2 linked regions of the Homo sapiens genome follow. The protein of the gene in region 1 interacts with the protein of each later gene in a pairwise test. Each region holds a gene or a part of one and is shown on either strand. Other genes may lie near its edges.

What was found.
Region 2: the proteins of SHC2 (region 1) and FLT1 interact in a two-hybrid assay, tested with the Homo sapiens proteins (2 studies listed by BioGRID).

The regions. Positions count from the first base shown.
Region 1 is NC_000019.10:459,234-463,132, reverse strand, and holds the start of SHC2 (SHC-transforming protein 2), read left to right. Parts: upstream 1-2,099; 5' UTR 2,100-2,136; coding exon 2,137-2,604; intron 2,605-3,899. UniProt on the Homo sapiens protein: Signaling adapter that couples activated growth factor receptors to signaling pathway in neurons. Involved in the signal transduction pathways of neurotrophin-activated Trk receptors in cortical neurons.
Region 2 is NC_000013.11:28,493,157-28,497,055, reverse strand, and holds the start of FLT1 (vascular endothelial growth factor receptor 1 isoform 1 precursor), read left to right. Parts: upstream 1-1,927; 5' UTR 1,928-2,212; coding exon 2,213-2,276; intron 2,277-3,899. UniProt on the Homo sapiens protein: Tyrosine-protein kinase that acts as a cell-surface receptor for VEGFA, VEGFB and PGF, and plays an essential role in the development of embryonic vasculature, the regulation of angiogenesis, cell survival, cell migration, macrophage function, chemotaxis, and cancer cell invasion.

The sequences.
Region 1 (3,899 bases):
AGATGGGGTTTCACCATGTTAGCCAGGATGGTCTCGATCTTCTGACCTTGTGATCCTCCTGCCTTGGCCTCCCAAAGTGCTGGGATTACAGGCATGAGCCACCGAGCCCGGCCTTAACGTGTCTATTGATGTCACAGAAAAGAGACCCGAACGCCGCCCTCCAGAGCCAGACCCGTAGCCCTCCAGTGGCCAGGGGGTCTGAGAGACCAGAAGAGAGACCCAGGGCGAGGGGAGGCCGGAGGTGGAGCCAAGCTTTTGAGCAGGCAGCCAGGTAGGCTTCCTGGAAGAGGCAATATTGAAGCTGGGTTTTGAAGGATGTATAGGAGCTTGAGGTATTCTAATATCTGCCATCAGTAGCTGCTTGCTATGTTTTGGATATTAATAAAGATCATCTAGGCTTCATAGCAACTCAGGACCAGGGGCATCTACTGAGAGGAAATGGTGCTTTGGAGAGACTGGACATTTGTCCTGGGGCATGCTGTGAGCCCCCACCTCAGTCTGATGTCAGGATTTGAACTCTGGATGTTGGACTGAGTTCCTGCCACTGTCTCCAAGGGACAGGAAGGAAACACACCGGGGGTGCCGTGTGACTGAGCCCTCTGTGTGCCAGGGAGGGATGGCACCTGGACCACCTTACAAACCTCCCATCCAGAAAGACCCTAATCCCGGAGCTTGGGAGGGTGCGACACTGCCCCGGGACCTCCCTGAGGGATGCAGCCTGGGAGGCATGCAGGGCGCAGAGAGGGGGTGGTGGGGCTGCTCTCTCCTCAGCCCACAGCCCTCAGCCTAGGGCCGCCAAACCTGTCCCACCCTTTACCCATTAGGTGAACACACCCCAGGACCCAGCAGCCTGGATCCCCTGCATATGCCTGGACACGCACCCAGACACAGCGTACACCCTGCGCACAACACACACACCGCGCGCAGGTCCAGCCGCGGCTCCAGCCCGACCAATCGCGCCCACGATCTGCTCCTCCCGCGGACGCGCAGGGGCTGAGTCCGACACGCGCCGCGGCAGAGACGGCCGATCGCGACCGCGCGCCTCGCTCCCCTCCCCCACCTCCCCGGCCCCGCGGGCGGCGCCGGCTGTGATCTCATCCCCTGAATTATCGATCGGGCTCCGGGCAGCCTCGCCCCTCCCTCCCTCCCCACCTGCCAGCGCGTCCCGGCCCCTCCCTTTGTTCCCGGCAATCAGCCCTGCTTGGGGCGGGGCAGGTGCAGGGGAGCTCCAGCCAAGTCGGGCCAGGAGGCTGGGTCCCGGGGTGACAGTGACACCCCGTTTTCTGGTGCAGAAGGAACCGACCCTTGAGGCCAGGGAAGGTGCGGCCGGTCTCGGAGAGGTTGAGGCTGGGGATGGAGCGACCGGCCTGGGAGGCTGAGGCCCAGAGCTCAGATGAGCTGGTGCGGGACTGGGCTCCCCAGAAGTGAGGGAAGAAGGGCCGCGACCCTCCAGCCCGCTCCCCTGAGTTACAGCCGGAGAAACTGAGGCCGGGACAGGCCGCAGAGCAGGGGCCCGGCTCCGCTCCTAGCCCCGCCCCCCCCCCCCACCCCCGAGCCGGCACTCCTGGGTTTGAGCTTCGTCTGTGAGCCCTCGGCCGCGCCCCTTCCCCTCCCCGCGCCTCAGTTTCCCCACTAAGAAATAGGGGTGACCCTAAGGTACCTTCTAGCTGCAACAACGGAGAGGGAGGGGCTGACCTTAGGGTCTGGGGTTCTCTTTTCCCTGGCCGCGCCTCCCGGGGCCTCAGTTTCCCCACTAGGAAATAGGGGAAAGAAGGGATGTGGAATTTCTAAGCTTCTCCAGCTCGGTCCTTCTGCGAACTTGGGCGGCGGGCGGGGGTGGGGGGCGCAGCGGGGAGGGTCGCTGACGGGGTTCTGGGTTCAAAGCCCCGTCCCGCCTTGGCTGCGGGTTCCAGGCCAGCGCCCGGTGTCCTCGGAGGGCCTCAGTTTCCCCAGCCTCGCGGCCAGGCTCCGGGACGAGGAGGGCCGGGGTCCCAGGGGCGCAGCCCCCCGCGGCTGCGCGCTGGGCCGGGCGGATGACATCACCGGGCCGGGGGGCGGGAGGGAGCGGGCGGAGCGGGAGGGCTTCCTCCGCGCCAGGCGCAGCGCCCGGTCGGGCTCCGTCGGGCGGCCGCGGCCATGACGCAGGGTCCGGGCGGGCGCGCGCCCCCGGCGCCCCCCGCGCCCCCCGAGCCCGAGGCGCCCACCACCTTCTGCGCGTTGCTGCCCCGAATGCCGCAGTGGAAGTTCGCGGCCCCGGGCGGCTTCCTGGGCCGCGGCCCGGCGGCGGCGCGGGCGGCTGGGGCCTCGGGGGGCGCGGACCCCCAACCCGAGCCGGCGGGCCCGGGGGGCGTCCCGGCGCTGGCGGCCGCCGTCCTGGGCGCCTGCGAGCCCCGCTGCGCCGCGCCCTGTCCCCTGCCCGCGCTCAGCCGCTGTCGGGGCGCGGGGTCGCGGGGGTCGCGGGGCGGGCGGGGGGCGGCGGGGTCCGGGGACGCCGCCGCCGCCGCCGAGTGGATCCGGAAGGGCAGCTTCATCCACAAACCCGCGCACGGCTGGCTACACCCCGACGCCAGGGTCCTGGGGCCCGGGGTCTCCTACGTCGTGCGGGTGAGTCCCCCCCACCCCCCCCGGGAGCCCGTTCGCGGCGGCCTCCCCTCCCCCACCCTCTCCTCCGGGACCCCCGGACCCCGCGAGCCAGGTGTCCCCTCCCCATCCTTCCTGCTCTCCCGCCACCCCGGACCCCCATCCCCGGCCGGCGGCCGGCGGCTGCCCCCACCCGGAGGCGCTGGGGTCCGGGTTCCCACGGCGTCACGTGGGGAGGGGCGGGGAGAGGGCGGCGGGGGAGGGGCGCGCATGCGCAGGTGCACCGCCCCCCACTCGGACTGGGCGGGCGAGGCCGAGAGCGGCGAGCGGCCGGGGCGTCTCTGCCACCGGAGCCCCCCGGACAGCTGTTCACGAATGACAGACGGGGCCCGAGACGCTGGCCTGCGGTGGGGGTGCGGGAAGGGGTGTTTGGAAAGGGGCTGGCGCCCGGACAGACCCCAGGATTCCAGATGGGAGGCAGCAGGGACTTCCAGGGCGGCCAAGGAAGCGGCCTTTGTTTATTTACCTTGGGTCTTATGATAAATGAACCTTTTCAAACACACGGGGAAGTCGGGCGCCTGGACACAGCACGCCTCCACCTAGGAGGGTAACCTTCCCCTCTGCTGACGGGTCTGCCCCTCTCTGTGGTTTATAGTAAACCGTGTGAAGTCACCTGCAGGGGTGACAGCGCCGTGCATAGTCCCCCGTCTTCTGAGAGAGCAGCTGTCCTACAGCTGCAGTCATTACGGCGTCTGGGAAAATGATCAGCCACTCCCGCACGCCACTACCGGTGGGTGCTCCCAGCTCCTCCCGGCCTCTGCGGCCAGGAACATTAGCCTGTGTTCACATTGGGTTGTGTCTTTGCTTTTCTGGACACTGAGTTCAGTAGGGTCCTTCCCTCTACACTGAGTTGAGAAGGGTCCTTCCCCTTACACTGAGTTCAGTGGGGTCCTTCCCCCTACGCTGAGTTCAGTGGGGTCCTTCCCCCTACGCTGAGTTCAGTAGGGTCCTTCCCTCTACACTGAGTTGAGAAGGGTCCTTCCCCCTACGCTGGGTTCAGTGGGGTCCTTCCCCCTACGCTGAGTTGAGAGGGGTCCTTCCCCCTACGCTGGGTTCAGTGGGGTCCTTCCCCCTACGCTGGGTTCAGTGGGGTCCTTCCCCCTACGCTGGCTTCAGTGGGGTCCTTCCCCCTACGCTGGCTTCAGTGGGGTCCTTCCCCCTACGCTGGGTTCAGTGGGGTCCTTCCCCCTACGCTGGCTTCAGTGGGGTCCTTCCCCCTACACCGAGTTGAGAGGGGTCCTTCCCCCTACGCTGGGTTC
Region 2 (3,899 bases), on another chromosome or scaffold:
CATTTGAAAAAATGTATTAGCAAATTAAACCTTTGTACATGGTACTATGGACCACTTTCCCCCAGAGTCAAATGTGTGTCTCTCCTGAGAAGCCCTCCTTGGGTTTTCCCTGCCAATAAATGTGCCTTTACTTCTCTGAGCTGATGGAGGACTAAACACCCCTCCAGCACTGGAATGCCGGTCCTGCAGCCACTTCAAGTGTCCACCTTCTTATCACAGTCCAAGCCCTTTAGAAGGCAAAGATGATGGCTCTCCATCAGTGTTTTCAGCCCTAACCCAATGCCTGGCCCCTGTTGAATGCTGCAGAAGGACAATGCTGACAGCTTCTCCTTGAAAGAGGGTGTGGGAGTGACAAGCAGCTCTCAGGTGAGACCAACAGACACTGTGGCTCCGCACGTATGTCCCAGGCTGTGTTCTGGGCTGGGGGACCAGCAAGGAGAAGGATCAGCTGTCCGCTTCCAGCTGTTCTGAGGGATGATGCTGTGGGTTTTAGAGGAGGCAGGGGTGCGGGAGGCAGAGAAAGGCGCCAGGAAGAGTGGTGAGGAGAACTGGAAAAACAGAAAGCGCTGGTGAAGCCAGCAGGCAAGCAATGACTCCGGCAGTCTTCCTTGCCTCTGAAGCAGAAGGGATCCAGGGACAGTTAGTGGCTCAGGTCCTGCGGCTCCAGGTGCCCAGACGTGCATTTCCTGTGTGGAGTGGCCGGGGCCTCTCCTTGGTGTGCAGCCCAGAAATGTGGCAACTTTGGGTTACCCAACCTTCCTAGGCGGGGAGGTAGTCCAGTCCTTCAGGAAGAGTCTCTGGCTCCGTTCAAGAGCCATCACAGTCCCTTGTATTACATCCCTCTGACGGGTTCCAATAGGACTATTTTTCAAATCTGCGGTATTTACAGAGACAAGACTGGGCTGCTCCGTGCAGCCAGGACGACTTCAGCCTTTGAGGTAATGGAGACATAATTGAGGAACAACGTGGAATTAGTGTCATAGCAAATGATCTAGGGCCTCAAGTTAATTTCAGCCGGTTGTGGTCAGAGTCACTCATCTTGAGTAGCAAGCTGCCACCAGAAAGATTTCTTTTTCGAGCATTTAGGGAATAAAGTTCAAGTGCCCTGCGCTTCCAAGTTGCAGGAGCAGTTTCACGCCTCAGCTTTTTAAAGGTATCATAATGTTATTCCTTGTTTTGCTTCTAGGAAGCAGAAGACTGAGGAAATGACTTGGGCGGGTGCATCAATGCGGCCGAAAAAGACACGGACACGCTCCCCTGGGACCTGAGCTGGTTCGCAGTCTTCCCAAAGGTGCCAAGCAAGCGTCAGTTCCCCTCAGGCGCTCCAGGTTCAGTGCCTTGTGCCGAGGGTCTCCGGTGCCTTCCTAGACTTCTCGGGACAGTCTGAAGGGGTCAGGAGCGGCGGGACAGCGCGGGAAGAGCAGGCAAGGGGAGACAGCCGGACTGCGCCTCAGTCCTCCGTGCCAAGAACACCGTCGCGGAGGCGCGGCCAGCTTCCCTTGGATCGGACTTTCCGCCCCTAGGGCCAGGCGGCGGAGCTTCAGCCTTGTCCCTTCCCCAGTTTCGGGCGGCCCCCAGAGCTGAGTAAGCCGGGTGGAGGGAGTCTGCAAGGATTTCCTGAGCGCGATGGGCAGGAGGAGGGGCAAGGGCAAGAGGGCGCGGAGCAAAGACCCTGAACCTGCCGGGGCCGCGCTCCCGGGCCCGCGTCGCCAGCACCTCCCCACGCGCGCTCGGCCCCGGGCCACCCGCCCTCGTCGGCCCCCGCCCCTCTCCGTAGCCGCAGGGAAGCGAGCCTGGGAGGAAGAAGAGGGTAGGTGGGGAGGCGGATGAGGGGTGGGGGACCCCTTGACGTCACCAGAAGGAGGTGCCGGGGTAGGAAGTGGGCTGGGGAAAGGTTATAAATCGCCCCCGCCCTCGGCTGCTCTTCATCGAGGTCCGCGGGAGGCTCGGAGCGCGCCAGGCGGACACTCCTCTCGGCTCCTCCCCGGCAGCGGCGGCGGCTCGGAGCGGGCTCCGGGGCTCGGGTGCAGCGGCCAGCGGGCGCCTGGCGGCGAGGATTACCCGGGGAAGTGGTTGTCTCCTGGCTGGAGCCGCGAGACGGGCGCTCAGGGCGCGGGGCCGGCGGCGGCGAACGAGAGGACGGACTCTGGCGGCCGGGTCGTTGGCCGCGGGGAGCGCGGGCACCGGGCGAGCAGGCCGCGTCGCGCTCACCATGGTCAGCTACTGGGACACCGGGGTCCTGCTGTGCGCGCTGCTCAGCTGTCTGCTTCTCACAGGTGAGGCGCGGCTGGGGGCCGGGGCCTGAGGCGGGCTGCGATGGGGCGGCCGGAGGGCAGAGCCTCCGAGGCCAGGGCGGGGTGCACGCGGGGAGACGAGGCTGTAGCCCGGAGAAGCTGGCTACGGCGAGAACCTGGGACACTAGTTGCAGCGGGCACGCTTGGGGCCGCTGCGCCCTTTCTCCGAGGGAGCGCCTCGAGGAGTGGCTGGCCTGGACCCGCGAGCATCAGCGCTCAGACCGGGTCCGCGCTGGGGCTGTCCGTTTGCGACAGGATCGCTGATCCCTTATCCAGCTGTCGGGTTGGGGTCTCACTGCCGAGGCCCTGGGCACTAGGAGCAGCACGCACCGGGACCTGCCTGGCACCCAGAGCCCATTCCCAGAGGACCTGGGGCAGGTACGCAGGGTCCCCCGGAGCCGGGAGCAGAGGCTCCTGAAAGCCTGCCAGGCTGCCCGGGGCTGGGCTGAGGCCGGGACTTTGGTGATATTGGGCACTGGCCGCGACCTCGCGTCACGAGAGTGTAGGAGGGGAGCCGATTTGGAGGGGACTCGTGCCTGCGGGGGAGCAGGAGGATCTCAGGAGAGGGCCAGCGCCGGCATCCCATGACCCGCTTGAGTCCCCAAGCCGGACTGTCCCGGGGAACGCTCGGCGAGCGCCCGCTCCTCCCCGCCGCTCTCGGACCGCGGGGCCCCAGTGCGCTGCGCTCAGCCACCCGGGTGGGGCCTCTGCCGGGAGCAGGCGTGGTGCGCGGTCCAGTCCGTGTCGCGGACATCAGTGACCCTGACCCACAAGGGCAGCCCAGGGCCCAAATACCGTTAACTTACTGACTTACAAGCCTAGCCTTTAAAATCCGAGCGAAGAGAGGGCGGGCGATTTTGACCAAACGATGTGGTTTGAGGAATCGATGAGGTCCGCCCGCCACCTAAGTCAGCCTTCGCTGGGCGTTTGGGAGACGGGCGGTGGAACAGTCAGGGGCCGGGGGTTTTACCAGCAGTTAGACCGCCGCCATTGAGGGGTCAAAGCCCCGAGGAACTTGAGGGTTCGGACTCGCAGTCTCTGCTCAGTGGGGCTGAGTGGCGGAGATTTGTGCCTCGTTCCCCTGGGCGCAGAGAGCCAGATTTCGGAGCGCCTTTCTTTTAAGCATCGTGGAGAAAAGGTAAAATATGAAATAAAATATAGTAATATAAAATAAGTCATTGCAATGATTCCCGGGAAGAAAAGTCAATAGGATGGAGCGTAGTACAACAACAACAACAACAAAAAGCTTGTTAAACCCAAAAAGCAGTAATAATTAAATATTCTTTCTCAGTGGGAAGACTAACTAGACCGTCAGTTTCCAAGTAACAAGTAATAGTTCCAATTAGATTGGAGAAACTACTAAACCCGGAGACAGGGCGAAGTGGTAACTTCTGAGAACTCACTGTAGGTTGGGAAAGGTGCTAACATAACTATATTAAATAAAATGTTGTATTTTCTATTTCACAAATACATTTTTTGTTTTGAAAAGTCACTTGTATTAAAATATAATTGCTTAGAGAATTTAAATACCTCACTCGACTATTATGTAAAGATAAATCTAGCTAAATTACATGAATCTAAAATTACGGAGGGAAAAGTACGTGA